Linked DNA regions of Homo sapiens. The protein of the gene in region 4 purifies or fractionates together with the protein of the main gene of each other region. This does not show direct contact. Each region holds a gene or a part of one and is shown on either strand. Other genes may lie near its edges.

Region 1 (3,500 bases), on a different chromosome or scaffold from region 4:
CTTGAGACTATAAAACAAACTAAAACATAAAAAAACTTCTTATGTGCAGCCACTATGCAATAGGCAACTATTTATACATACGTCTAAATTTTCAAGCCTTTTTCTGTGAATTTAAATTAGGAAATACATTTAAACTCGCACATTTTAAATACACCAATTCATTAATATCTGAATGTCAACTGTCCTAGGGAGGATCCAAATCTTTATTCCCAGCATCCAAGTGGCACAAAATAGCTACTGAAATGTCTGCTGAACTGAATATCTGGGATCTGACAAGGCAAAGTCTGGACTTGCAGACTGTGGAGCTGTACTATGGAAGTATTTTTGAAGCAACTGAAGTGATAGAGTAAGGTTTAAAACTCACTCAAAGTACTAAGTAACAGACTGATATGGTTTGGCTGTGTCTCCCCAGATCTCATCTTGAATTGTAGTTCCCATAATCCCCACATGTTGTGGGAGGCACCTGGTGGGGGTAATTGAATCATGGGGGCAGTTACCCCCATGCTGTTCTCATGAATTCTCACAAGATCTGATGGTTTTATAAGGGTTTTCCCCCTTTTGCTCGGCACTTCTTCCTGCTGCCATGTGAAGAAGGACATGTTTGCTTCCCCTTCCACCATGGATTTGTAAGCTTCCTGAGGCCTCTCCAGCCCTTTGGAACTGTGAGTCATTTAAATCTCTTTTCTTTATAAATTACCTAGCCTCGGGTATTTCTTCATAGCAGCATGAGAACAGACTAATACACAGACATTTCAAGACTTGGGTCCTTTGAAAGCCTCTGGGCTTGAGGAACTGTGCCAGGAGCCTGCACTGTGCCCCTGCAGACAGCCTGCCCTCCTTCAAGACATTGTGCCCTTTGAGTACAAGGACAGGCCTTTCATACTGACATCCCAGAGGACCTGGCACATCTGAAGTTCAAATGAATGAGTTGTGGATGACAACGGGTGATAGGCAACAGAATGAAGCTGCATTTCCCCCTCTTTAATTTATCCCTAAAGTTAAGTGTCTGACTTAATGAACAATCACAAATCTGTGACTTCTGAGTACTGTCCCTGTGGGTAATAATACCATATGACTCGATTTTCAGATACTACAAATAACTTAGAAAAATTCAGTCAGACTGAATAGCATCCTTAAACACTGCATTTACAATGCCTAGAAATTAGTAAGTAGTCTATCATGTGCTTTTAATAGTCAAAAGAAAAATGACAAAGAAATATCAATTGGAAAGTTTTGAAATGCCCACAGTTTGACAGCTTGACTGAAGGTTTGGTTTCAACCAAAATGCTTAACAACTTTTTGACCTTTCCCTCTGCAAAGATCAGATTAACACTTTCATGCACATATTCCACTCCCTTCACTTGACAGTCTGCTATAAAGATGCTCTGACTTGGATTTTGTTCCAGCAACTAGAGCAAGCTAATACCTGAGCCACTGCCAGACTGAAACAACTGAAGTGCTGAATAAAATATTAAAAGCAAAAGATACAAACTAAACACCTTTTGAAACACACTGCTGAGTTAGCACAAAAGGAAAGGCTCCGGAGAGGCCACAAAGGAAGTGAAAGCAGAAACCCTGGGAGAACACATGTGCTGAGGCAGGATTTCCCGCTGGGAGACTCCACAAACCTGGGAGCCTGGCTCTGTGCTCTGGGGACTGTGTGGGGGCAGGGGAGGCAACACACAAAGTGTCCTGTATTAAGCTACAAGCTGGGACTCCAAAAGGACCTCAGCATAAGGGTAAAGAGGAAAACCTGTGTGCAAGGAAATGTCTCATCATTGATACAGAGTAGTGGGGATGAGGAAAATTTCTCCTGAGATGCCAGGTCCATATTTATTCTACCCAGTATGGCTGAGAAAACATTAAGCCAGGAATTAAAGATATAGTGACTCCAAGGATGTAATGTCCCCAGGAGACTGGTATCAGCACACACAAATCCTCCCTGGAAGGATACAACCTCAATCTAGGTAATAGGATTCCCACAGAGGAAGTTCCAAGGAAAACAAGCAACTCAAGGAAAAATCAAATCAAATCACAAAACACACAAGAAAACAAAGCACCATGAGTGAGAATGTGCAGAAACGGATGGCTGAATCAGACTTCTGAGATTAGGACGGAAAACTATTAATGTTTTGACATGCTTAAGAGAAGCTTAAAAATATGAGCAAAGAACCAGAAACTATAATGAATGATAAGCAGATTTGAAATAGAACCAAATACAATTTCTAAAAATAGAAGATAACCGAAACTGAAAATTAAATGGATGAATAAAAGAGCAGATTTGGCCTGACTGAGGAAAGAATAGTGAACAGAAGGTAAGAACAAATGAAATCATCCAGAATGTAGCACAAAGAAAACATGACAGGTTGACAGATGGGAAGTTAGATTTCCATCGGTCCTTTTCATGTTACTAGAGTTCCAGAAAGAAAGAATGGAGAAAAGGCAATTTTCATGAATAACCGCTGAGAATTTTCTAGAGCTGCACTCACCTATAAAGTAGCCATTAGCCACATGTGGCTACTGAAATTAAAATTTAAACACAGTTCCTCAGTCACACTAACCACATTTCAAGTTCTTGTTAGCCACAAGAGGCAGGCAGTTACCATATGGACGGCACAGATGTAGAACATCATCACAAAGAGTACACTGAACAGCACTGTTCTAGAACTAACGTAGCACCTGTCCTCAGATCCAAGATACCCAGGAAACCCAAGCTGTGCAACTAAAATCCACACATGGACACACTACAGTCAAACTGCAAAATACTAAAACTGAGAAAGTTAAAAACAGCCAGTGAGGAGTCACACCACGGACAAAGGAACAATAATTAGCTAACTGGCTTCCCAGCAGCAAATGTCAAAGCCAGTAGAAAACAAAGGAAGAATACCTTCATTGTACTAGGAGAAAATGCTGTCAACCTAGAACTCTTTCAAGACCAGGGTAATTTTCATACCTAAGAGACATATAAGAGATTTACCAACAACATACCTTCTCAATGGAAATTCCAATTCATTTTAGATGGAAGGGAAATTATCTCAAGAAAAGACTGAAATGTAAGAAGAAACAGTAAGCAAAGACACAGTACAATATGATTAGATCTAAAACATTTAACTGTATAAAAATAATGTTCAATTTGTGGTGAAAAAGATATAACTAAAATACTGGGCAATAATTGATCATATTGGGGGAGATGACTGGAGTTAAATAACCTTATGTCTTTTTGTAATTCAGGAAAAGGCTAATGATATTAAGTAATTTCAGACTTTAATGTTAACATCCTTATGATAACCACTGGAAAAAAGAGACTTATAACACAAACCTTCCACAAAGTTGGGAGTGGGCTCCTACAATCTATAAGATGGTAGACAGAAATCCAAATATATCAGTAAACACAATGCTGTACAGGCAGGCACCAAGATCAGACTGGATAAAAAGGTAAAATTCAGCTATTGGCTTTTATATATCTGGGAAATATTTACCAAAAGCTAGTGAAATCACAT
Region 2 (3,500 bases), on a different chromosome or scaffold from region 4:
CGTGAGCCACTGCCCGTGGCCTAGGTTTGCATTTTAGAAAGACCCTTCTGGCCCCTCATGCGGAGATGCTCTTCAAATTCAATGCTTTCCTGACAGAAGCAGGCCCCTTGTCCTACTGCGGGTGCATCTATCTGGGTCCCCGGTGCCACCTGCCACCTCCACCCACCCACTCTGGCCAGGCCTGGGTGTTCCCCTCCTCCCTTCTCATGTTCTAGAGCTCAGCCAAGTCTACCACCCACATCCCACACCTCACTCCCAACTGGCCTCTGCTCTCCAGGCTGGAAGCTGCTGTCTTTTTGTTGTTGTTGTTGCTTTTAGAGACAAGGTCTTGCTCTGTTTCCCAGGCTGGAGTGCAGTGGTGCGAGATCCTGGCCTCAAGTGATCCTCCCACCTCAGCCTCCTGAGTATCTGGGACCACAGATATTCGCCACCATGCCTTGCCAATTTTTCTAATTTTGGAGACTTGGGGTCTCACTATGTTGCCCAGGCTGCTCTTGAACTCCTGGCTTCAAGTGATGCTCCTGCCTCAGCCTCCCAGAGTGCTGGGATCACAGGTGTGAGCCACCGTGCCCCACCAAAGCTGCTGTCTTGATGGCGCCTGCCACGTCCATTGAACTTTCTGTCCTTTCTGATGCTCTGTCCATGGGGCCACCAGAACCATACAGAACTGCAGCTCTTGCCACGTCATTGCCTGCCTAAGACCCTTTAGCAGCTCCCAATGGTGAGATGGAGCCCAGATGTCTTTGCAAGACGTGCATGCCCTTCCCAGCCTCGCCTCTTTCTGCATCCCTGCTTGGCACACTCAGTCCTCCAGGCACATGGGTCTCCTGATGTCTGCCAGTGTCTGTGCATACTCTGTTCCCTCTGACTGGAAGGGCATTCTCCAAGACCCGGTTTGGATTTTTTTTTTTTAGATGGATGGAGTCTTGCTCTGTCGCCCAGGCTGGAGTGCAGTGGCGCGATCTCGGCTCACTGCAAGCTCCGCCTCCTGGGTTCACGCCATTCTCCTGCCTCAGCCTCCTGAGTAGCTGGGACTACAGGCACCCACCGCCACGCCTGGCTAATTTTTTGTATTTTTTAGTAGAGATGGGGTTTCACTGTGTTACCCAGGATGGTCTTGATCTCCTGACCTTGTGATCTGCCCGCATTGGCCTCCCAAAGTTCTGAGATTACAGGCGTGAGCCACCGTGCCTGGCCAAGGATTTTTTTTTTTTTCTTTTTAGAGACAGGGTTTTGCTCTGTCTCCCAGGCTGGAGTGCACTGGTATGATCATAGCTCACTGTTCACTGCAGACTTGACCTCCTGGGTTCAAGTAATCTTCCCGCCTCGGCTCCTCAAAGTGCTGGGACTGTGCCTGGCCGGTTTGGCCATTCTTTCTGTGAAAACTTCTCTGTCAACCTCCCTTCTTCCAGCATCCTGGCTCGCTTTTCCCCCTCTCTCTCCCTGAAAACATCCACCCCTCTGCCTACACCCAAGCCCAATGCACATTCTATGGCAATTATTTCTAAACCTGCCTGCCTGCCTGCCCTAGGGTCATGCACGATTTGAGGACAAGAGCCTCTCTTCTTAATTCTCTATTCCAAGCCCCTAATGCACTATCTGGCATTCAGTACATGCTCGACAAACGTTTGTTGAATAAATGAAGATGAAACTTTCCATGTCGCTTAGGCAGGTGATCAAGGTCAACATCAACAGTGATAAGTTACGTGGCTAACACGTACCCTTGATAGGATGTGACAGAAAGGACCCTTCACCCCTGTGGTCTTCCTCCCCAAGACCCCAGTCTAACCATGAGAAACACCAGAGTGGCTGGGCATGGTGGCTGACACCTGTAATCCCAGCACTTTGGGAGGCCAAGGCCGGCGGATCACTTGAGGTCAGGAGTTTGAGACCAGCCTGGCCAACATGATGAAACCCTGTCTCTACTAAAGATACAAAAAAATTTGCTGGGCGTGGTGGCACATGCCTGTAATCTGAGCTACTCAGGAGGCTGAGGCAGGGGAATGGCATGAACCCAGGAGGCGGAAGTTGCAGTGAGCCGAGATTGCACGACTGCACTCCAGCCTGGGTGACAGAGCGAGACTCCGTCTCAAAAAACAAAACAAAACAAAACAAAAAAAAACCAACCAAAAAAAAAATAAACACACCAGACAGATCAGTATTAGAGGACATTCTACACAACACCTACTCCACCTTCCTCAAAACCGTCAAGGTTGGCCGGGCATGGGGGCTCACACCTGTAATCCCAGCACTTCGGGAGGCTGAGGCAGGCAGATCGCCTGAGGTCAGGGGTTCGAGACCAGCCTAACCAACATGGAGAAACCCTGTCTCTACTAAAAATACAAAATTAGCCGGGCGTGGTGGCACATGCCTGCAATCCCAGCTACTTGGGAGGCTGAGGCAGGAGAATCGCTTGAACCCAGGAGGCAGAGGTTGTGGTGAGCCGAGACTGCACCACAATTGCACTCCACCCTGGGCAACAAGAGCGAAACTCCATCTCAAAAAACAAAAAACAAAAACCAAACCAAACCAAACAAACAAAAACGTCAAGGTCACGAAAAGCAAGGAAAGTCTGAGAAACTGTCACAGCCCAGAGGAGGTTAGGGAGACATGACGACTAAATGTCATGTGGGATCCTGGGATGGAAGAAGGTTACTGGGAAAAAACAAAGGAAATCTGAATGAAAGGTGGACTTTAGTTAATAATAATATATCAATACTGGCCCATTAACTACAACAAATGTATCATATGAATGGAAGACATTAACTATAGAGGAGACTGGGTATGGGGCATATGGAAACTCTGTATCGTCTTCTCAATTGTTCCATAAATCTCAAAGTGTTCTACAAAATAGTCTTATTTTATTTTATTTATTTTTTATTTTTTGAGAAGGAGTTTCACTCCTGTTGCCCAGGCTGGAGTGCAGTGGTGTGATCTCGGCTCACTGCAACCTCCACCTCCCAGGTTCAAGTGATTCTCCTGCCTCAGCCTCCCAAGTAGCTGGGATTACAGGTGCGCACCACCACGCCCGGCTAATTTCTGTATTTTTAGTAGAGATGGGGTTTCACCATGTTGGCCAGGCTGGTTTTGAACTCCTGACCTCAGGTGATCCGCCCGCCTCAGCCTCCCAAAGTGCTGGGATTACAGGCGTGAGCCACCACAACTGGCCATTTTATTTTATTTTTGAGACAGGGGTCTCACTCTGCTGCCCAGGCTGGTCTTGAACTCCTGGCCACAGGGGATCCTCCTGCCTCAGCCCAAGTCTATTTTAAAAATAATAATAAAGGCTGGGTGCGGTGGCTCATGTCTGTAATCCCAGCACTGTGGGAGGCTGAGGGGGGGCAGATCACTTGAGGTCAGGAGTTCGAGACCAGCCTGGCCAACATGGTGAAACCCTGTCTCTATTAAAAATACACACACACATACAAAATTAGCTAGGTGTAGTGGCGCATGGCTATAATCCCAGCTACTCCTGAGGCTGAACCCAGGAGGCAGAGGTT
Region 3 (3,500 bases), about 38 Mb from region 4:
TTCCGTAAGACCAGCTTACAGCTGATTCATCTCCTGTTTTGAAAACGTAATACTTTTATATTCTCTCATAAAATTATTCAGTACTTCCACTAGAATTGGAGCAGGAACATCACAAATGAGTCAATTCTCTGCCTTATATTCTACTAATGAGTTCCGCCAAAAGGGAAGAAACCAACCTTGTTTATATACTACTGTTTAACAAATTTCTATAACTTCAGATACCTATCATTGTCCAATTGTACTCCCCTTTACACATCGTAAATTCATATCTAATGTTGAATCTAATGCTACTAATATGAAAGTCCTACTTCATCAAAATTCTCTTCAAAATATTTACGTACTATATATTTTACACACATTGGAAAGATATAAAAGGCATTATATGGTGCTTGAAAAACTACAGTCCAATAACAGTTGGCGAAGTTTCTCAAACTTGTCAATTTCCTTTTAAAGCCATTTTTCTATATGGGAACCTCATCTTGGTCTTGACATCTGACAGGCACCTTTATTTTACAATTTAAGGAGCAATCATTTTCACCTTACTCAAGAATTACAGAAATGTCTTACCAAGTGTAAACATAATACATTTAAATTACCTGTAGAGTAGTTAGTTGTTTTTGTTACGGATTCTTGAGCTTCAGATATAGCCTTCAAAATCAGATTCTTGTTAGCTTGTTTAGAAGGTGGAAGAGAAGGTCTAAAAGAGTTAAGAAAGGTATTTTTATTAAACTTTAAATTTCAGTTCCTCACAGGCCAGCCATCTATTATGCCTTTACCACAACCTTCTCTAGGTTTTAAACAGACTAGCTGCAGTTTTTAGAAAATGCCAACTACACTGGAACCTTATTTTTTTTTTTAGACAGACTCTTACTCTCTCACCCAGGATGGAGTGTGATGTCACTGCAGCCTTAAACTTCTAGGCTCAAGCAATGCTTCCACATCCACCTCTCCAGTCCAGGACTACAGGTGCCTGCCACAATGACCAACTAATTTATTTTAATTTTTTTTAAGAGACAAAGACTCATTACATCGCCCAGGCTGGTCTCGAACTCCTGGTCTCAAGCAATCCTCCTGCCTCAGCCTCCCAAAGTGCTAGGTACAGGCATGAGCCACCATGCCTAGGCCCCTTTTAGTTTTTTTAAATAATAAATCTGAATCTTAATTGATGTTGTTCCTCCTCACCCCACCATATTAGTCAATATTCTCTGCAATCCTCTCCAATGTTAAGCAATTTCTCTCATTAACGTGTTTCTCAAAACCCAATGGAAAAGTCTTACACGGTATTACATTAAATATTTATGTCAGGTGCGGTGGCTCATGCCTGTAATCCCAACACTTTGGGAAGCTGAGGAGGGCAGATCACCTGAGGTCAGGAGTTCGAGACCAGCCTGGTCCAACATGGTGAAACACCATCTCTACTAAAAATACAAAAATTAGCTGGTCATGGTAGTGCACACCTATAATCCCAGCTATTCAGGAGGCTCAATCAGGAGAATCACTTGAACCTGGGAGGCAGAGGTTGCAGTGAGCCGAGATCGTGGCACTGCACTCCAGCCTGGTTGACAGAGCGAGACTCCGTCTCAAAAAACAAACAAAAATTATTTTCGTGATTATTCTCTTCAATAAATCAGGAAGACTCCACCAAGGCAGTTAAAGATTAATTTACAGCCATGTTCAAGGTACCTCCTTTCAGGCTTTGCAGGCACAGACACACTGCTGGAGATGCTTCCTGTTCGAGACCCGTAATCATCATCTTCTTCCTCCTCTTCTCCATCATGATTGAATTTTTTTACTTTAACAACTGAACTTACCACAGGCAACTTTCTCTTCCGAAAGTTTTCATCCTGCAATCAGATAAAATTTATGCTTACCTAATCTCAGAAAATAACAAGAGTTCTACCACAAAATGTTTCCATTTTAAGAAAAAAACAGTACACAGTAATATGAGAAATTCACAGAGTATTTCTTGGTTTTATGTAAAAATATAAATATGAGGCTGGGTGTGGTGGCTCACATCTGTAATCCTAGCACTTTGGAAGGCCGAAGTGGGCGGATCACAAGGTCAGGATTTCGAGACCAGCCTGGCCAATATGGTGAAACCCTGTCTCTATAAAAATACAAAAATTAGCTGAGCGTGGCGGCATGTGCCTGTAGTCCGAGCTACTCGGGAGGCTGAGGCAGAAGACTCACTTGAACCCGGGAGGTGGAGGATGTAGGGAGCCAAGATCATGCCACTGCACTCCAGCCTGGGCGACAGAGTGAGACACCGTATCAAAATAAATAAATAAATAAATACTATAAATATAAATATTATCCCTAACAGTCAACCTTTAGCTAAAACAAAAATTAGAACTTTACATTTATTTTATCAACAGCTGCATATAGTGCTATTGAGGAAACTAATAAAACAGAGTTAATTGGTTGCTCACTAGCAATTACCATGAACAATCTAAAATTGATTGAAACCCCCCAAATTAATTTAAGATTAATATCTCAAATGCTGGAAATCCCAAAAAGGTATACAGATGTGATACAAAAGAACTCTAGGAGCAAGCCATGGGGAAGAAAATCTGGTATAGCATGAGAAACAGCAGATAAAACAATTTAAAAATAAACTTGGGGCCAGGCGCCATGGTACATGCCTGTAATCCCAACACTTTGGGAGGCCAAGGAGGGCAGATCACCTGAGGTCAGGAGTTCAAGACCAGCCTGGTCCAACATGGTGAAACACCATCTCTACTAAAAATACAAAAATTAGCTGGTCGTGGTAGTACACACCTGTAATCCCAGCTATTCAGGAGGCTGAATCAGAAGAATCACTTGAACCTGGGAAGCACAGGTTGCAGTGAGCCAAGATCAAGGTGGGTGGATCACAGGGCCAGGATTTCAAGACCAGCCTGGCCAACACGGTGAAACCCTGTCTTTGCTAAAAATACAAAAAATTAGCCAGGCATGGTGGCGGGTAATACCAGCTACTCGGGAGGCTGAAGCAGGAGAATCGCTTGAACCCAGGAGGTGGAGGTTGCAGTGAGTTGAGATCGCGCCATCACACTCCAGCCTGGGCAACAAGAGTGAAACTCCTTCTCAAAAAGTAAAATAAAATAAAATAAATTTGGAATATGTGTTTTTTTTGTTTTTTGTTTTTTCTTTTTTGGTTGAGACGGAGTCTCGCTCTGTTGCCCAGGCTGGAGTGCAGTGGCACGATCTTGGCTCAGTGCAAGCTCCGCCTCCCAGGTTCACGCCATTCTCCTGCCTCAGCCTCCCGAGTAGCTGGGACTACAGGCGCCTGCCACCATGCCTGGCTAATTTTTTGTATTTTTAGTAGAGACGGGGTTTCACCGTGTTAGCCAGGATGGTCTCAATCTCCTGACCTCGTGATCCACCCGCCTCGGCCTCCCAAAGTCCTGGGATTACAGGTGTGAGCCACTGTGCCCAGCCTTGGAATATGTGTTTAGTTACTTCATATATTATTTGGTATCAAGAACTGCCGATTTTTAGCC
Region 4 (3,500 bases):
ACAGATATAAACTAACATGAGCATAGTAATCAGGAAAAAAAAAAGCAACTGTAAAAACCATTCGGACATTTTATTTTTATTTTTTATTTTTTTGAGACAGGGTCTTACTCACTCCGTCACCAAGGGTGGAATACAGTGGCAGGGCTAACTGCAGCCTCGATCTCCTGGGCATAAGGCTTCCCGAGTAGCTGGGACCACAGTTGCATGCCACCACATCCAGCTAATTTTTTTATTTTTATTTTTTGTAGAGATAGGGTCTCACTAGGCTGGTCCCAAACTCCTGGACTCAAGCTATCCTCCCATCTCTGCCTCCCAAAGTGTTGAAATTACAAGTGTGAGCCACTGTGCCAGGCCACATTTTCCAAACATATTTAAAAAGTTTAAAACACCTAAAGCATGAAGCTTACAACTTACTTTTATTCATTAGCAACTATGAATAGAGAAAATAAGTAACTATAAACTATTTCATATTCTCTAATGATTACTTTGTTTTAGCAATTTCAAGTTTACAAATCTTTGTTATATAACATAATCAAGGGTACTAACTTTTAACACTTCAATCTATCATAAACTTTTCCGTAAACAGCATCTCTCAAAGGATTCCACTGCTATTTTTTACAATATGAAATGTCAAGAAACCATGAAAATTAATTCTATCTCAATCTTTAGAAGATTTAGAAACTGACTTATTAATCTCTAAAACTCTGGTTCTATTTCATTTGCCCCAAAATGTTCTCTTGTATTTCACTCTCAGAAAGAAAGCAAATTTACTTATAATAAATAATTCAGATTGTATTGTATTGTGCTCCAATGTTTTGATTTTTTTTTTTTTTTTTGAGACAGGGTCTCACTCTGTCACCCAAACTGGAATACGGTGAGGTGATCATGGCTCACTGCAGCCTTGCCTCAACCTCCTGGACTCAAGTGATCCTTCCATCTCAGCCTCCCAAGTAGCTAGAACTACAGATGTGTGCCACCATGCTTGGCTAATTTTTTTTTTTAATTTTTCTGTAGAGATGGGGTCTCACTATGCTGCCCAGGCTGCCCTCAAACTGTTTTAATCTTTTGAAAGAAGAGTTCAAAGTGGAACATCATATAGATATTATATATATTATGTATTTATAAATATATATTTATGCAAGGATATGGGGAATTATGATCACTTCAGAAAATTTTTAAAAACTTAAATCTATTTTGTGATCTTTAACTTATTAGAGATTTTGTGATAAATTAAAATTTTCCTTATATTCCAAGAGCAATCTCAAAAGCATTCAGCAATGGTTCCCTTTCCTCAGCAAAGAACTAACTGGCTATTGTTTGACAACTTTGTCCATTACCTTTTATTTATGTCTTAGAAATTAGTCTCTATATGAAGCACAGAGCCATTTGATTTTATTTCAAGACACATGTAGAGGTCTTGTCATCAAGAGATTAGCAACATAAATAATGTAAATGACTATTATTAGAAGTAATACCTTAATCTCTAGACTAAGCAATAGAAAGGATGGAAGCAAAGTCAAAATATCATAGAAAGTTTGAAAAAAGATCTGTGCTTGGTTATTCTGACTTCTACAGGTGAAAGTTACTGGCAAAATCACTTATTTTGCTGCTTTAAAGATTTCTTACAGAAAGTCTTCTCAGCTCCACTCTAAAATATTTCTTTAATAAATATGAATGTTGATGACATCAAACACTTAATTAGAACTGTTTTATTCTTGTTTTTGTTTATCCAAATATCTAAATTATCACCAGTAGTGATATCCTACCAAAAAGGTATGATTTTCATTGTCTACTTGGTCTTAAGGCTGCTCAAACTCTTCCACGTGTCATTTTTAAATAACCATGTAATAATTATAAGCTGTAAAGGAGAACAAAATTGAGGATATTTAGAGTGGGATTTCCTGGTAATGGAAGTATATTAAACAACGGCTCTGTTTGGCATAATAATCTGATAATTTGCTAAATATTTCTTGAATTTTCAGCAGTGAGATTTGATAAACATCATATTAATGAATATCCAACTAATATTCTACAGATACTTAAAAGAATGTGTTCCAAACATCTTACACAGAAATTACTGGGCCAGGCAAGGTGGCTCACACTTGTAATCCCAACATACTGGGAGGCCAAGGCGGGCAGATCACTTGAGCCCAGGAGTTCAAGACCAGCCTGACCACACGGAGAAACCTTGTCTCTACAAAAAATACAAAAATTAGCCGGGCGTGGTGATGTGCACATGTAGTCCCAGCTATTTGGGAGGCTGAGGTGAGAGGATGACCTAAGCATGGGAGGTAGAGAATACAGTGAGCTGAGATTGTGCCATTACACTCCAGTCTGGGTGACAGAGTGAGACTCTGTCCCCCGCAAAAAAATGAAAATAAAAATAAAAAATACAAAAAAAAATTAGCTGGACGTGGTGGTGCATGCCTGTAATCCCAGCTACTCAGGAGGCTGAGGCATGAGAATCACTTGAACCTAGGAGGTGGAGATTGCAGTAAGCCAAGATAGCACCACTGCACTCCAGCCTGGGTGATAAGGCGAGATTCTGTCTCCAAAAAAAAAAAAGAAAGAAAAAGAAAAGAAAAATTACTGTACTGAACTATGTGCAAACAAGTAATGTACTTTCATGCCCCCATTCGCTTTCTACACAACAGTCTCTGACCTCCTTATCCACCCGGTGAATTTAGCCACTAGGATACAGTTGAAATGCTTCCTCTTGAAGATGCCTTCTGATTATGCCTTTTCCCTCTTAAATTTTTTCTTTTGAAATATCAAATTTATAGAAAAGTTGTAAAAGTAACACAAATAACTCCTGTAATACTCTGAATCACCAATTTTTAACATTTTGTCACATGCTTCATCATTCTGTGTGCCAGTGTGTGCAGATCGTTTTTTTAGTAGTTGTGATACTATCCACTCAGTTCCTTCCAGAGGAAGGGGGACTACGGCTGAATGGTTTTGCAGTAGTTTTTGGAATATAAGGAAAAGTCAAATGTATCACAAATTACTCTCAAATAGTATCATTCTCCTTTACTCCTTTAATATTTCTCATAGCTCATCTTACAACAAGGATTTTCTTTTACAGAATCACAGTATAGTGATCAACTTCAGGAAATTTAACACCGAGTAATCTACTGCATAATCTAATCTATAGTGTATATTCCAATTTTGCCAACTGTTTTAATAACATCCTTTAAGGTAATATTTTCCCCCAAAACAGGAACTGGTCAGTGAAGCACTAAATTGTCATGTTTCTATTGTCTCTTTTATTCTGGAGAGTTCCTAAGCATTTGTCTTTCATGACTCCCGCAAATAAATAAGGACACACACACCCGCGCACACACTGTTCTCTCTCTCAGTAGGACGAATACCCAAAACCATTATGTATTTTTTTTTACTCCACTGAACAAAGGAAAAATCAATAGGAATTTTTTTCTGCCTTCCCTAAGCAGAGCTAGTAACTCCTGCTTCATTGATCTCATAGTACTACCTCTATTAGG

Evidence for each region. The genes of interacting proteins can lie anywhere in the genome.
Region 1: the proteins of SOS2 (region 4) and SNX9 purify together in Homo sapiens (co-immunoprecipitation; one study listed by IntAct). This does not show direct contact.
Region 2: the proteins of SOS2 (region 4) and EVI5L purify together in Homo sapiens (affinity purification with mass spectrometry; one large-scale study listed by BioGRID and IntAct). This does not show direct contact.
Region 3: the proteins of SOS2 (region 4) and ZC3H14 purify together in Homo sapiens (affinity purification with mass spectrometry, with the first as the bait; one large-scale study listed by BioGRID). This does not show direct contact.

Annotation. Positions count from the first base shown.
Region 1 is NC_000006.12:157,829,746-157,833,245, reverse strand, and holds part of SNX9 (sorting nexin-9), read right to left. Parts: intron 1-3,500. UniProt on the Homo sapiens protein: Involved in endocytosis and intracellular vesicle trafficking, both during interphase and at the end of mitosis. Required for efficient progress through mitosis and cytokinesis. Required for normal formation of the cleavage furrow at the end of mitosis.
Region 2 is NC_000019.10:7,836,718-7,840,217, reverse strand, and holds part of EVI5L (EVI5-like protein), read right to left. Parts: intron 1-3,500. UniProt on the Homo sapiens protein: Functions as a GTPase-activating protein (GAP) with a broad specificity.
Region 3 is NC_000014.9:88,573,037-88,576,536, reverse strand, and holds part of ZC3H14 (zinc finger CCCH domain-containing protein 14), read right to left. Parts: intron 1,845-3,500; coding exon 1,684-1,844; intron 698-1,683; coding exon 597-697; intron 1-596. UniProt on the Homo sapiens protein: RNA-binding protein involved in the biogenesis of circular RNAs (circRNAs), which are produced by back-splicing circularization of pre-mRNAs.
Region 4 is NC_000014.9:50,162,079-50,165,578, forward strand, and holds part of SOS2 (son of sevenless homolog 2), read right to left. Parts: intron 1-3,500.